Regions from separate parts of the Homo sapiens genome. Here all the other regions are linked to region 3. Evidence: fine-mapped expression QTL. A gene starts in region 3. Each other region holds a variant in brackets. All regions are shown on one strand. Distances are from middle to middle. Region 1 overlaps ABR (ABR activator of RhoGEF and GTPase). Region 2 overlaps ABR (ABR activator of RhoGEF and GTPase). Region 3 holds the start of ABR (ABR activator of RhoGEF and GTPase).

The links.
Region 1: its variant is fine-mapped to the expression of ABR in subcutaneous fat (FUSION, PIP 0.95).
Region 2: its variant is fine-mapped to the expression of ABR in nasal epithelium (TOPMed, PIP 0.99).

The regions. Positions count from the first base shown.
Region 1 is chr17:1,108,514-1,113,513 of GRCh38, reverse strand. The region is part of intron 2 of ABR (ABR activator of RhoGEF and GTPase); the gene reads left to right. Among named protein-coding and RNA genes, the nearest start is that of ABR, 69 kb to the left of the region's middle. The variant C/T (reference allele first, on the strand shown) is at 3,083.
Region 2 is chr17:1,099,035-1,104,034 of GRCh38, reverse strand. It overlaps ABR (ABR activator of RhoGEF and GTPase), which reads left to right. Exons shown (of 23, transcript NM_021962.5): 3 at 3,300-3,398. Among named protein-coding and RNA genes, the nearest start is that of ABR, 78 kb to the left of the region's middle. The variant C/T (reference allele first, on the strand shown) is at 2,323.
Region 3 is chr17:1,177,395-1,182,394 of GRCh38, reverse strand. ABR (ABR activator of RhoGEF and GTPase) reads left to right here and starts at 2,414. Exons shown (of 23, transcript NM_021962.5): 1 at 2,414-2,728. The coding sequence starts at 2,668. It overlaps ABR-AS1 (ABR antisense RNA 1), which reads right to left and starts at 768. Exons shown (of 3, transcript NR_187271.1): 1 at 467-768; 2 at 84-128. RefSeq lists an enhancer at 1,607-2,373.

The DNA of each region.
Region 1 (5,000 bases), 69 kb after region 3:
GGGGTTCGAGACCAGCCTGGCCAACATGATGAAACCCCATCTCTACTAAAAATACAAAAATTAGCCGGGCCTGGTGGCGGGTTCCTGTAATCCCAGCTACTTGGGAGGCTGAGGCGAAAGAATGGGTTGAACCGAGGAGGCGGAGGTTGCAGTGAGCTGAGATCATGCCACTGCACTCCAGCCTGGGTGACAGAGCGAGACTCCGTCTCAAAAAAAAAAAAAAAAAAAAAAAAAATCGCAATAGGTGTTTCCATGTTATCCCTTCCAGAAAAGTGGCACCTCAGCTGCAGAGTTCTGACACTGCTCCCCTCCCCAGTACGGCCTTGCCCCTCCCTTGACACTGCCTTGGGAGTCAGTCACCAGGTCAATCTGTCCCTGAGACTGTCAGCTCCGCGAGGGTAGGCACGGGGTTCCCTGTCCATGGCTGCATTCCGATGCTAGCACACTGCCTGGTGCACAGCAGGCGGCTAACAAATGCTTGCTGATTGGGTCAGGCGGTTAACAACTGCTTGCTGATTGGGTCAGGCGTTAACAAATGCTTGCTGATTGGGTCAGGTGGTTAACAAATGCTTGCTGATTGGGTCAGGCGTTAACAAATGCTTGCTGATTGGGTCAGGCGTTAACAAATGCTTGCTGATTGGGTCAGGGAAGGAGGGAATGGAGGGTGGGTGTGGGGGAAGACTGTGGGGAGTCAACCATTGGAGACTGAGATTTAGACTTGATGGTGTCAGAAATCTCAGTGGCTGCGAAAGATTTCAAACAGTAGCTAGGTGTGGTGTGTGCTTATGCCCCTCACCCTCCATGATGCTGTTCAGCCCACTTCTCCAAGTTCATCTTCTGTCCTCTAGCAAGCAGCGCTTCTTAACCTGCCTTCCTTCCTCTCTTCCTTCCTTCCTTCCTCCCTCCCTCCCTCCCTCAAGACAGAGTCTGGCTCTGTTGCCCAGGCTGGAGTGCAGTGGTGCGATCATAGCTCATTGCAGCCTCCAACTCTTGAGCTCAAACGATCCTCCCACCTCAGCCTCCTGAGTACCTGAGATTTCAGGTGCGCCACTGCAACCGGGTTGCTGAAGCTGCTTAACCCTTTCCTTTCGGGCCTTCTCTTCTTTGCCTGGAAACCCTTCCCTATTTCCAGATGCTACTCAGAAGCCACTGTCCTGTGAAGCTTTCACTCTCAGGCAGCGTTAGTGCCACTGTCCTCCATCCCCAGGGTGGCTGGTAAACGAGAACACTGCCTCGTGTGTTCACACGTCCTCACCCCAGACGGATCGAGAGCCTGAGAACGGCAAGGGCCCCGTCTCCCAGCCTCGTATGTGTGCCATGCCAGGCCTTTTCTGGGTATGAATGAATGAATGAACAGACAGATGGACAGACAAGATCAGGAGCCAAAGTGGGGAAGTACGTGTGGTCGTGTGGGTGTAAGAGGCTCTAAAGCTTGGTGGGGTGGTGGCTTTGGCAAAGGAAAAGAAGAACCGAAGGACTTGGTAAAAGGGATGTGGGGGTTGAGGGAAGGAAGACTCGTAAGATGGCGGCCGCACTAACAGAAGTGGAAACCCGGAAGGGGAAGCTGTTTCAGAAGGAGGAAGGGTCCTTTGGTCCAGATGTGTGGAGTGGAAGGGCCGTGGCTGGGCTTCCAAGTGAGGAGACCCAGTGGCCGGGGCAGGTGCTAGACCTAGAGCCCAGCAAGACACCAGGGCTGCAGCTGGCAGCGGGCCACCACTGGCCTGGAAGGGAGAAGGGCTGCTTCTCTGGGGGAAGGGAGCAGAGGGCTGAGGCTGGGCCCAAGCAAGTGACTCCACATTTACAGGAGGCGGGAGAATGAAGGGCCAGCCTACACCAGAGAGTGGTCGGGGCAGTGCCTGCATCAACAGGGCAGCTGAGGGCTTGGAGAAACTCTAGACTGCAGAGGCCAAAGAGTCGGAGAGGGAGGCCTCTGGCTTTGGAATAAACCGTTTGGGGGGGCCTTTGAAGCAGGCTGCTTCTATGGAGAACATTAGGAGCCAGGCCGAGGCAGATGGAGTGTGGAGCTCAGGTCCAGGGCTGGCTCAGGGCATTTGTCAGGGAAGGGGAGGGAAGCTGTGGGGACTGGTGAGTCACTTCCCCTCCAGGGGGGCACCGAGGGCCTGTGAGTGGAGTCTGTGTCTGATGGAGGGGCACTCTCATTACTCACTGGAATTTCCAGCCACCGGGGACAGGGTGGAGTAGAGAGGCCCTGGATACTCAGGGAGTCACTTGTGTGGGGTTCAGGGATTTTGGGAAGAAGTGGGCGTCAGTCTCACCATGCCGTGTAGAGGTGTGGGGAACGGGGACGAGGATATCCTGGCAGACTTCCAAGGGCACCTCATGTCCTCTTGAGTGGAGGAAGGAACACAGCAGGGGCCTGTGGGGTTTTAGGCCCTTCTTCGTGTCACCTGCAGGTCTGACTCATGTGGGCAGCCCATGCCATGCACTTGGAGCCCGCCGGGCGGGAGACAGAAGAACCCGTGGTACCAGGCCCTGAGCTGGCATACTTGTGCCCTGGGGAATGCCAGGCCTGGTCGTTCCCAAGCCCTCGCCACAGCCTCACCCGCCCGCACCAAATGAGGAATTGTGGCTGAAAGGGCCCTTCAGATGCGCCCTGGCTATTTATAACCCACCCAGGCAGGGACAGGGGAAAACCAGGGGCTGGAAGGAGATGGGTGGGGTGGGGGTGTGCCTCTGTTGAACCCTGGTGGCACAGTTCCCTGATCAAAGGCTGTTAGCCCTGGGGCCCCTCAAGGGCTCACCCCGCAATCCCCTGCTCTGTATTTCAGCTCTGCAACAGGATGGAGCCTCTCTCCAGGGAGGGCAGCTTCTCTGCTGCCAATGGAATTGCATGAGCCCCACCTAGAGCCCAGAGCTTCTGAAGAATTCTGGGGGGAGTGGGGGGCTGTGGCCTGAACTCGGGCCACAGGTGTGGTTCATTTAGACGGCACCATGTTGTTTTAAAATGTTAATTATTTGCCATCGTTTTAAAATCAGGAGCATTCCTGTTAATAAGCCAGATTTTAGCTTATTTTGAACAGAGATCAGGCAGCCATGAGCTTGCGTTTCCTCCAGCAGCCAT[C/T]GGCTGGAGTGAGTGGTGGTTTCACCCTGCCCTACCTGGCTCGCTTCACCGGCTGGCCTCACCCGCAGGCCTCACCCGCACCCTCATGGGTGCCGTTTGCAACCTTTGCTCCATCGTTGGGTTGTAAAAGAGCTTTTCCCAGGGCCTCCTCTGGACTCCTCCTCCCATGGAAGGAGGTGTATGTGCATCTGGGAACTAGGGCCAGGGGGACCAGAATGTGGCCTCACTCCCTGCACAGTTGGGGGTTCTGCAACCATTGGAGAAGCCAGGGGAAGCTGGCTGGGAGTGGGCAGGGCCGGAGATGGTGCCTGTCCTGGGTTCTGTGTGCACTCCCCTTGCAGGATGGCTCCCTGCGGTGGGGTGGCTGGGGGGGCTGCTTGGAGGAGGTGGGGGTGCTGGTCTCAGCAGTGCCTGTGAGTAGGTGGGAGGCTGCTCAGAGGAGGTGGGGGTCCTGGTCTCTGCAGCGCCTGTGAGTAGGGGGGCTGGTCTGTGAGTGGGGGGGCTGCTCAGAGGAGGTGGGGGTGCTGGTGTCAGTAGCGTCCGTGAGTGGGGGGACTGCTCGGAGGAGGGGGGCTGCTTGGAGGAGGGGGATCCTGGTCCCTGTGAGTGGGACGCCCACCGCTCCTGTGCAGGACAGTGGTGGCGCCGCGCTCCTGCCTGGGGGCAGGTCAGGCCTGTCTGTTGCAAAGCCTGACTCCTCCAGCGGCGGCGGGACGCGGCTGTGGCTTCTGGGCGGGCCGGGGCCTCCCCTCCGGAAGGGGGCTCCGGCGCATGGGGACTCCGGGGTGGCTCTGGGGGTCGCCCCTGCTCGCCGGGCTCCTGGCTCGGCCGCGCGCGGGGAATGAAGATGCGTCTGGGAAGCGGCCTCCCCGCTCCACCCCACCCCGGCCCGGCCGCGGCCTCCTCGCTCCTCCTCCGCCGCAGAAGCCTCCGCCAGCCGCGGCCCCGCAACCCCAGAGGACGGGCGGCTCCACCTCGCGACGCGCGTTTCCTGTGTGTTCGGAGCGAGCGCGAGCCCGAGCCCCGGAGCCCGGGAAGGGCGGGCCCTGCGGGGCCGGGCGGGACACGGAGGAGGGCGCTGGGCTGCTGTGCGGCGGGTTCGCCTCCGCCACGGGCCGGGCACGGCGTCAGGGGCTGCCCGGGCCTTGCTCCCCCTTTCGCCGGGCGAGGACGCGCGAGGCGGCGGCGGCGGCGGCGGAGCGGGCTGGACTAGGTCCGGGATGCAGTCCCGGGTCGGGAGCCCCAGGCCGGGCGCGCGGGTGTAGACCTGCCCCCCCTCCCGCCCGCCTCCTCCCTCCTCCCTCCTCCCGCCGCCGCTGCGTGGACCCCGCTTCCTGTCTGCCCTCCGCGGGCTCCGGCTGCCATGGAGGAGGAAGAGGAGGCGATAGGCTTGCTGGACAAGGTTCTGGAGGACGAAGATGTGTTTCTCCTGGAGGAGTGCGAGCTGGGAACCCCGACCAGCCCCGGCTCAGGGTCCCCCTTCCTGGTGGCTGTGAAGGTGGGAGCGTGACACGCCCTGGGCGCTGGGGGGGGCCGGGCCGGCGCTGCCGAAGGTGCGCGGGAGAAATGGCTGATGCGGGCGCAGAGCGCGCGGCCGGGTGGAAGCCCTCGGCGGAGGGTCCCGGCCCCGGCAGCTGTTCCCGGGGGAGAGGGGCGGGCCTGCCTCCCCGACCGGTGTCCTCGGGGCAGTGGTGGCCGCCCCCTCCAGGCCAGCCCAGCTCAGGGCTCCGGCGGCTGTGCCAGGAGTCACCTGGCGCGCCTGTCAGCCCGAGCCTCGCCGCCTCCCTGGAGCGGGTGGGCAGGAATCCCCCGTTTCCACGGCAACCGCAAGAGAGGGGCCACCCTCTTCCCAGCCAGGAGACAGGGACTTGGTGTCTCCGAGCTGAGGCAAGAGGGTGTTTGCAAAGGGCAAGAGCCA
Region 2 (5,000 bases), 78 kb after region 3:
TATTCCCAGTGCCTGGCTCCCGGTGGGAATGGGTGAGTGAGTGGTGAGCCTGGTTTTTGATGAGACAAGAGACGCCCTGCAAAGACTGAAGAAACAATGTGAATTTCCTCATGGCTCTAAACTGGGAATTGTGGAGTCTGAGGAAAGCTGGAAAAGATGGGAGATGGAACAGGCCTTCCTTTGGTGGTGACTGAGCAACGGGTCTCCTGTTAGCCAAGTGCACCGAGGCTAATTTCCCATCCGTACGCTCTCCAACGCCTTTGCTCCAATCTCAGCCAAAACTGCAGCGTGAACGGGGCCCAGAGCAGGACTCTTGGGGCTGACTGTTGCCTCTTGAGGGAGGGTCTTCCTGAGTTGTCTTCCCATCAGAACCAGCCTTTCAAGAGTGGACTATGAATGGAAGTCTTGAGGGGAGGATCTTGCAGAAATGGGCGATTACAGGGCTTCCAGGGTCTATGCTCGTGCCAGGGGGGATGAAGCTTGTTTGTGGCTGGGGCTGCAAATCCCTTTCTTCCCCCCATCCTAGTCCAACCAGCTCTACAGTTACAGCTCACGGTGTGGCATTTGCTAAACCCTCAGGCAAAACCTTGGTTGGCAGGGAACAGGAGGGAGTGCTAGCCCCCAGCACAGGGGATGAGTTCCCATTTGTCAAGGCTGGGAAGCAGCAGGAAGACCCCTGAGGGTCTGACCTGGAGGGGCTGGAGCTGGGGGCTGTTCCAGGCTCTGATCTTGTCCCCCGGGGCTACGTGTGCTGGAGGCTGTGCAGGCCTCTGGCAGTCCCGACTCTCGGTGCCTCAGGAAGATGATAACACCTGCCAGGTTTTGAGACTCCGGTGAATTGAACCACAAAGATAGCTAAGCTCAGTTCCTGGAATTTGTGAAGCCGCCAATAAGTAACTATTGCCCTTGCCTGAAGCGTGGGGTCTGTCTTGCTTTTCTAATGCTGCTGAAACAAATCGCCACAAACTTAAGGGCTTAAAACCACACAAATTTATTCTCTTATACAGAAATCTAAAAAGGATCTCGGCCCGGCTCCATGGCTCACACCTGTAATCCCAGCACTTTGGGAGGCCGAGGCGGGCGCATCACCTGAGGTCAGGAGTTTGAGACGAGCCTGGCCAACATGGTGAAACCCCATCTCTACTAAAAATACAAAAATTAGTGGGTGTGATGGTGGACGCCTGTAATCCCAGGTACTCGGGAGGCTGAGGCAGGAGAATCGCTTGAACCTGGGAGGCAGAGGTTGCAGTGAGCTGAGATCATGCCATTGCACTCCAGCCCTGGGCGACAGAGGGAGACTTTGTCTCAATAAGTAAATACATAAATAAATAGATTAATTAAAATAAAAAGGATCTCCAGGGCTGCATTGCTTCTGGAAGCTCTAGGGCAAGCTTTTCCAGCCTGCGGCCATACGGCCCAGGACTGCTTTGAATGTGGCCCGACACAAATTTGTAAACTCTTAAAACATTATATATTTTTCTTTTAGTTCATCTGCTGTCGTTAGTGTTATTGTATTTTATGTGTGGCCCAAGACAGTCGTCTTCTTCCAGTGTGGCTCAGGGGAGCCAAAAGATCGGAAGCCCCTGCTCTAGGGGAGTGAGTTCATTTTATTGCCATTTCCAGCTTCCAAAGGCTCTCTGCATTCCTTAGCTCGTGGCCCCATCCTCTGTCTTCAAACCTACCAGTGTAGCATCTTCCAAGCAGTCCCTCACCACTACCCTGTCTCCCCGGCCCTCTCACTCCCCTTCTGTGGCCACGATGCCTCAGGGAAAGATGGCATTTTAGGCAGCAGGTAAAGAACGAACCGAAAGCTAGAGACCTTTGAAGATGAGGAGGCTGGTTCTCCTGCGTGTGGGGGAGACTGAGCGATGTCCTGGCTGTGGGAAAGACTGGAAGGGTAGGGACGGGCATCCGGGCCACTGCAGGTGGCTCATAAAGGATATGGTGGGCCCCATGTCCCAGTCTAGGGCCGAATCTTTACTTGTTTTTTAAATGTCTTTCCGGCAGGGTGCGGTGGCTCACACCTGTAATCCCAGCACTTTGGGAGGCCAAGGCGGGCGGATCACGAGGTCAGGAGATCGAGACCATCCTGGCTAACACGGTGAAATCCCGGCTCTACTAAAAATACAAAAAGTTAGCTGGGCGTGGTGGCGGGAGCCTGTAGTCCCAGCTACTCGGGAGGCTGAGGCAGGAGAATGGCGTGAACCCGGGAGGCGGAGCTTGCAGTGAGCCGAGATCGCGCCACTGCACTCTAGCCTGGGCGACAGAGCGAGACTCCGTCTCTAAAAAAAAAAAAAAAAGAAAAAATAAATGTCTTTCCCA[C/T]TAGAGTCTAAGCCACTTGAGAACAGGGGCCACTGTCTGTTTCCCATGGTATCTATAGGGCCTGGTGGACATTCAGTAAATATTTATTGAATGAATAAATAAATGGACACATAGCCCAGTGGAATCCCCAAGTACTCGCGTTTTGCGGTATTCATACTCGGTCCTTGGCAAGCATCGGGCAAGGTGGCACTCTTAGGAGTTGAATCCAGCTCTGGTGTGTGGGACAGGCAGGAGGAGAGGAAGAGAGGGAGGAAAAGTCGGTTCGAGAACCCAGGTGGAAAATAGATTGAGGGAAGCAAAACGAGATGTTACAGGAGGAATATGGGTGATTGTCTTTTCCTTTTATATTTCTGCATGTTTTGTATATTTTTTATAATAATATCTGACTTTTATCCCCTATGAAAGTGTCGCTTAAAATAAAAGGAAAGGGGAAAGGGGGGCCGGGCGCGGTGGCTCACGCCTGTAATCCCAGCACTTTGGGAGGCTGAGGCGGACGGATCACCTGAGGTCAGGAGTTCTATACCAGCCTGGCCAACATGGTGAAACCCCATCTCTACTAAAAATACAAAAAAAATTAGTCTGGCATAATGGCTGGGCATGGTGGCTCACACCTGTAATCCCAGCACTTTGGGAGGCTGAGGTGGGTGGATCACCTGAGGTCAGGAGTTCTATATCAGCCTGGCCAACATGGTGAAACCCCATCTCTACTAAAAATACAAAAATTATCTGGGCATGGTGGCAGGTGCCTGTAATCCCAGCTACTCGGGAGGCTGAGGCAGGGGAATCACTGGAACCCGGGAGGCGGAGGTTGCAGTGAGCCGAGATTGTGCCACTTTACTTCAGCCTAGGTGACAGAGCGAGACTTCGTCTCAAAAAAAAAATAAAGGTCGGGGGGGAAGGGCAGGGAAGCAGACCGTCCACGCAGGGTTTTGGCCTCCTTGCTCATGAGCTGTTGGCTGTGCTTTGCGTTTGTGCAGGTGGAAGCAGGGAAAGGCCTGGAGATGAGGAAGCTGGTTCTCTCGGGGTTCTTGGCCAGCGAAGAGATCTACATTAACCAGCTGGAAGCCCTGTTGCTGGTGAGTACAGTCCCTGCTCTGGGGCCTTCCGGTCCCCCCGCCCGTGTTGGGTGATGTCATGCTCTGAAGCTGCTTTTGGAGTTGGAGAGGAAAGGGGACCGTACCCGTCCCTCCCTGTGGACAGAGTCTGCAGCTGGTCTGCTTCTGGCTGGGCATCGGGCAGCCCGGGTCATTGCCAGAAAGGGCCTGTGCCTCTCAGCTCCAGCTCTCAAAAGGCAGGAGAAGCACACCCGGCTTAGAGATGGCAAACACACCTGTCACCCACGACCCTGGCATAGGGCATCGTGAACCCATCATGGTGCTCTGCCTGCCTGGGCGGGGGCCGAGCGCCTTCTCCACGCTGTGCTCTGGGCAGTCATTCCCAATCAATCCAGTTAAGAAGTCTCTGCCGTCTTGTGTCCAAGTCCTTCTACCTCCCTGGGTGAGGGAACCGTTAGTGCCATCCTGAGGCCCCGTGTCAGGAAATATGAGGTGGGAGGCTGTGTTCTTTTTTTTTTTTTTTTTTTTTTTAAGACGGAGCTTTGCTCTTGTCACCCAGGCTGGAGTGCAGTGGTGCGATCTCGGCTCACTGCAACCTCTGCCTCCCGGGTTCAAGTGATTCTCCTGCCTCAGCCTCCCGAGTGGCTGGAATTGCACGTGCACGCCACCAGTCCTGGCTAATTTTTGTATTTAGTAGAGACAGGATTTTATCATGTTGGCCAGGCTGGTTTCCAACTCCTGACCTCAGGTGATCTGCCCGCCTTGGCCTCCCAAAGTGCTGGGATTACAGGCATGAGCCACTGCGCCCGGCCTGTCTGTGTTCTTTTGAGAAGCGGCACAGCTCTGAGGCATCAGGCCAAGCTCAGCCCTCGGTAACATGCCTCAGTTCCCCTCCCAGATGGAGGCATCGTTGTGAGAGTCTGATTGGGAGGGGAATATGAAAATGTTTTCGGAAGATAAAAGTACTACACAGATGTGAGGTGGTTTTGCCTTGGAAGAAAGTGCTCCTTAGATGTGTCTGGATGTTATGCAGAGTGATCGTGGCGTGTCAATCTTTCTTTTGGGTATTTTGCAGCCTGAGACATAAGGTAATTGTCAGAAAAGGGAGACGCAGAAGTGTGGATCTGTGGAAGCTCATTCTTAACAAGAATTCTAAGATGCACATTTAAGTACTTGCCATGACGTGAGGTGTTGTCACACGTCAACCCTGAGATGCTGTCAGTGTCCCAGGGGACTTGACATTTATGTTACCCAGGAATGACTGTGTAAATGTGCAGGTGCAGGCCGGGCGCCGTGGCTCAGTGCCTGTAATCCCAGCACTTTGGGAGCCCCAGGTGGGCAGATCACTTGAGGACAGGAGTTCGAGACCAGCCTGGCCAATGTGGTGAAACCTTGTCTCTGCTAGAAATGCAAAAAAAAGCCAGGCGTGGTGGTGCATACCTGTAATCCCAGTTACTCAGGAGGCTGAGGCATGAGAATTGCTTGAATCTGGGGGCGAAGGTCGTAGTGAGCTGAGAGTGCGCCACTGTACTCCAGACTGGACGACGGAAGTGAAATTCCTCAAAAAAAAAGGCTGGGTGCAGTGGCTGACACCTGTAATCCCAGCACTTTGGGAGGCCGAGG
Region 3 (5,000 bases):
CTCTGTCTCAAAAACAAACAAACAAACAAACAGAAAAAGAGCATGAACAGAGTGCCAGGGTTCAAGTCCCAGCCCTCACTTACCCTCTGAGTGGGTTACTCAGCTGCTCAGGGCCTCGGTTTTCTGACCTGGAAAATGGAGAAAACAGAGATAACAGTGACATTCACGGTGAGATCACGCTAGTGAACGAAACGCTAAGCCGGGCACACAGTCGGTGTTCTGTGTTCGTTATCAGAAGTTTCCTCTGTAGAGCCCTCAAGATTTGTCTCTCCCTCTACCCTCTATCGTGTTGTGGAGTGGAGGGTCCGAGAGTGCCAGGATTGGACAGAATGTAGACAGAAAAAAGCAAACTATGGCAACGCGAAGGAAAGCAACTGCCACATTTTAGCTTGGAGGATGCTGAAAATAGCTTGTTCAAGCCTTTGTAGATAAAAATGTAAAATGTACGCAAATGTATGTGACTCACGCAGAAGCATACATCCATAGCTCCCTCACAGTCAGCGCCGGATGTGGCCATCAGGAAAACCCCACAGTGTGGGGAGAGGGCCCGAGCGTTCTTGCTTGTTGTTGTTTTGAGGAGGGGACGGTGCTGCTGCCTCCTGGGCTGGTGGCTCCTGGTGGCGGCAGCTCACGCCCGTTTCCACCTTTCCCCTGGGCTGTCTTCCGAGAGTTCCAGGTGGGAAGAAGAGATGCCCTTGGCCCCTCATGGCTCCTCCGGCCTCGCGGTCCTCCGAGAGCCTGCTCGTTCCCTTCCCATGCCGAAGCTCTATTTCTGGAGCGTCTCATTGGAGATGCACGCCCCCTCCCTGCCAAGCTCCAGGTGCCTGCTTGGCCCTCCCAATCCTGTGTGCTAGTCAGGGACGGTGGGAGGGTGACAGCTGCAGGGAGGGGCGGCAAGAGACAGCGCTGGTGCCTGAGCCAGGAGGATTGGGGCGGAGGGAGCCCTGGGGACGCAGGGACGGGCTAATAATATTGAAAACCACTTCTGCTGCAGCCACCTGTAGAGGCTTCCCCACCCAGAGCATCATCCTGTGCGTCTCCCAGGGGCTCCCCAGCCTGTGATGAGTGGGTGACCCCCATCTCCCCTGGGGCAGCTGCAGAGGCCTCTGCCCAAGCAGCTTATGGGGCTTCCTCTCAGCATCCTGGGGGAGGAGCTGCTTCTCCCCTTAAGAACTAGATGTGTGTGTGTCTGTTTGGAGTGATGAGGACCGACCCCCACACCCCTCCAGCGTTCTGCGGGTGCCGACCACACTGCCCCCGGCAAAGGCCAGGCTGACTTAACCTTCCTGGTAGGCCTCTGTAGGGCTGGGCTCCCAGAAGTTTTCCCCTTAAGCTGCCTGGGGATGGGGTGGGGTGGAGACAGCTCCGGTATCTGAAATGTCACTATCTGGGGTACCGGGCCCCCTGGGTGGGCCCCACTGCTTCCCTTTCCCTGGGTTCAGGAAGGGGCTTCAGCCCCACTGCCCTGGACCCCCCTGGCCTGACTCCCCTCCTGTCCTTCCCTGCTCCAGGGTCGCTTGGCCCAAAGAGGTCTGTGGGGAAGCTGCCATGGCTCCCACAGAATCAGCCCACAGGAGACAGGCATGGGGCCCCCAATCTCTTCACTGCCCTTGGGCGAGGGGGTCTTCCTTAGAGGGAATTTCGTCTCTAAACGGTCATTTCTCAGGCCTCTTGACCCGACTTCCCACCATTTCTAGGTGATGATGCAAACACGATGGGCTTTCCAGGCCGCGGCTCGGGGTCCCCAGGAGGGGTCCTGGAGGGGAACGCGTGGAGCCCTTGGGGCTTCTCCTGGCTCCAGTTTGTCCTCCGCCCAGGAGGGGCACATGTGGGACTGTCCTGGCCCCACAGCCCCCGTGACTTCGGTCCTCCCGGGTCTCCACCCGCCCCCCTCCATGTGTGGCGGGAACGGCCGCGCTCAGAGGTCAGGGGTGTGGAAAGGGACGAGCGGGGGAAGGTTCGGGAGGAGAGAGGCGCGTCCCGCGGCGCGCAGGACGTTCACCCCGTGGGTCCCGCAGCGGGTCTGGCTGGGGAGGGGCCCGGCCGCCGCTCCCGCCCGCGAAGCCGCGCTTGGAGATCCCGGGCGGGAGGTGATGTCACCCCTGTGGGCTCCCGGGCCCCCCACGGCACCTGGTTTGCGGATCGCCAGGATCCTGCTGAGCCCGGCGCGGGGGGGACGAGGGGGACCTGGGTCTGCGCCGCCGCCTGGAGACCCCCCGAGACCCCCGCGGCCCCTCCTCGCCCAGCGCCGGAGCCCCGCTGCCCCCTTAGCCCGGCCGGGGGCGTCCTGCGGAGGGCGGAGCCTCGAGCCGATTGGTCCCTCCCCGCCCCGCCCCCGCACCAAAGCCCCGCCCCCGCACCAAAGCCCCGCCCCACCACGAAGCCCCACCCCCGCCCCGCCCCCCGCGAAGTTGCTCATCGGTTCCGGGATCCGCAGCTGGGCTCGGCGCGGCCGCTGGGGCCGGGAGGGTTCGGGAGGGTTTTGGGGGCTCCCGCCCCGCCCTCGCCCCTGCCCCGGCCGCCCCGCGCTCCTCCCGGGGACCTGGTTCCCGGCCTCCTCGCCCCTCCGCGCTCGCAACTTCGGCCTCCCCCGGCTCCCGCCCGCTCTCCCTCCTTTGTTGCGCGATGAGGGTCGGGTTTCGGATCTGACCGAGCCGCCGCCGCGGGATGGAGCCGCTCAGCCACCGGGGCCTGCCGCGCCTGTCCTGGATCGACACCCTCTACAGCAGTACGTGTGCCGGGCGGGGGCGGGACCCCAGGATCGGGATCGGGACCCCAGGATGGAGATCGGGACCCCAGGATCGGGATCGGGACCCCAAGATCGGGATCGGGACCCAGGCACCGGGCTGGTCCGGGGAGCGCGGGCGGGGGCGAGATCGGGGTCCGGATCGGGGTCGGGTTGGGAATCGGGATCGGGGTCGGGACCCAGGAGCCGGGCTGGTCTGGGGGGCGCGGGCGGGGGGTCCCCAGAGAGGATTCCTGCGGTCCGGGGGCGGGGACCGTGGGCGGACCGAGCCGAGAGCTGCGTCCCCCCTCCCACCTGTTGTGAACCCGGCCTCCGCGAGCCTCAGGGGAGGGAGGCCCTTCTGGGTGCTGCCCCCGCCCCTGGACCGGCAGCTTCTCTGTCCAGGCTGAAGCCGAAAGGCCGTTTTGGGAGCAGTCGTTGGCACCCGAGTTTGCCACCCCAGGGGCACCGGGTCATGTGTGGTTCAGGGCCCAGGGGTTCGGTGCTGGGGTGGGATCGGGTGGGAGGGGAGACGGGGGGTGCAGATATCCGCGGGGGCCGTTTGGATGCGGGAGCTGAAAATCCCGGGCTCAGCAATCTTTCCTGCCAGCCTCATCACCACCCCCACCCTCATCATCACCACCACCCTCAGAAGAAAAAAAAAACAAACCTTCTCGAGTTCTCCACCCCCTCGCTCCCAAATCTCTCTGGATCATGTGATTGCTCTTGCATGGCCCCGGGGGATGCGTAACTGATCACGGGTAATGGTGTGGGGGGGCTTGGGGCGAACCGAGAGCCGCCCCCCGCCCCCACCACCGCACCTTGCTCCTGCTCCGTTGCTAGAAAGGCACCGCCCCTTCTCCCCACCCTTCCCTGAGACACCTTTCCCGAAAGCTCTCAGGGATTAGGAAGAGGGTCCTCCTGGGCTTACATAGTGGATTTCGCCCTTCCTGGCCCACGTGAGTGGGACCCTCCCACTCTCTCAGCACATCTCCCAGGCAGGAGTTGGGGGAGGCACGTGGGGCCACGTGGAGCCTGGTTCAGCCTGATTCTAGGCACTGGATGCCATGGAACAGGAGCGTTTTCTTTCTTTTTTTTTTTTTTTGAGACGGAGTCTCGGCTCTGTCGCCCAGGCTGGAGTGCAGTGGCGCAATCTCCGCTCATTGCAACCTCTGCCTCCCGGGTTCAAGTGATTCTCCCGCCTCAGCCTCCTGAGTAGCTGGGATTACAGGTACCCACCACCACTCTCGGCTAATTTTTTGTATTTTTAGTAGAGATGGGGTTTCACCATGAGGCCAGGCTGGTCTCAAACTCCTGACCTCAGGTGATCCACCTGCCTCAGCCTCCCAAAGTGCTGGGATTACAGGCGTGAGCCAACAAGGGCATTTGTAAGGGTCATCCCAGCTAGAGTTCCTTGATAAGTCATATGGGGGGGGTGGGGGGAGTAGAGAAGGGTGATGCCTTGAGCCCCAAAGCCTTACTCTGGAGGCTGTGTGGTACCCAACATTCAACCTCTGACCTCAGCATCCCCTTGGGTCCAGGTCATTCCCTGTATCTTCTTCTCCACCCGCCTCCTCCTCCATCCATGTTCCTTCCTCTCCTCCCCCCAGGAGCTGTCCTTGTGATGGTTCATTCTGCTTTGGTTTCTCAACATCAAAGGGGCAAAGCCGGATCCCCTGGGCATAGGTCCTGTGCCAGGTGCCGCCGCTCCATCTGCTCCTTCCCCTGCAGAGGCCAGCGTCGTTGGGTGAAGGTCAGGGCCCATGGCTGTGTGGCATGTGCGTGCACGTGCGTCTGCATGAATGGGGGCACACATCTGTTCGGAGCGCAGATGCAGATCAGCTCCTGACCCGGAGGCAGGATTAGTGGCCCTCTCTTAGCTGTGTGCTTGCAAACAGCCGTCATAACAATGCCTCAGATTCACGCGTGCTTATGTTCCTGAGTGTTTCTGGCTCTTTGCAAAACCCAGTTCTTGTTTCCCTATTTCCCGAAGCCTGGAATCGTATGGAACCCTGTCTCTAGCTTTCTCTGCAGCAGAAGACTCCTCTGAGCTGATCATTTCCAAGTCTTCCATACCCCACCCTCTTCCTCCCACGCCTGGAGCAAAAAAGCAAAATTGCCTGAGGCCACCTTGAAAATTCCTGACCAGAGGAATGCCAGAAAAGGGAATTAGGCCAAGGCCTCTTAGGGGGTTCTGTTGGGCAGCCCTGATTCAGGCAGATTGGCACCTGAGCTGTCTACCCTCCTGCTGCTGCCCTGGCCTCTGGGCGGCTCC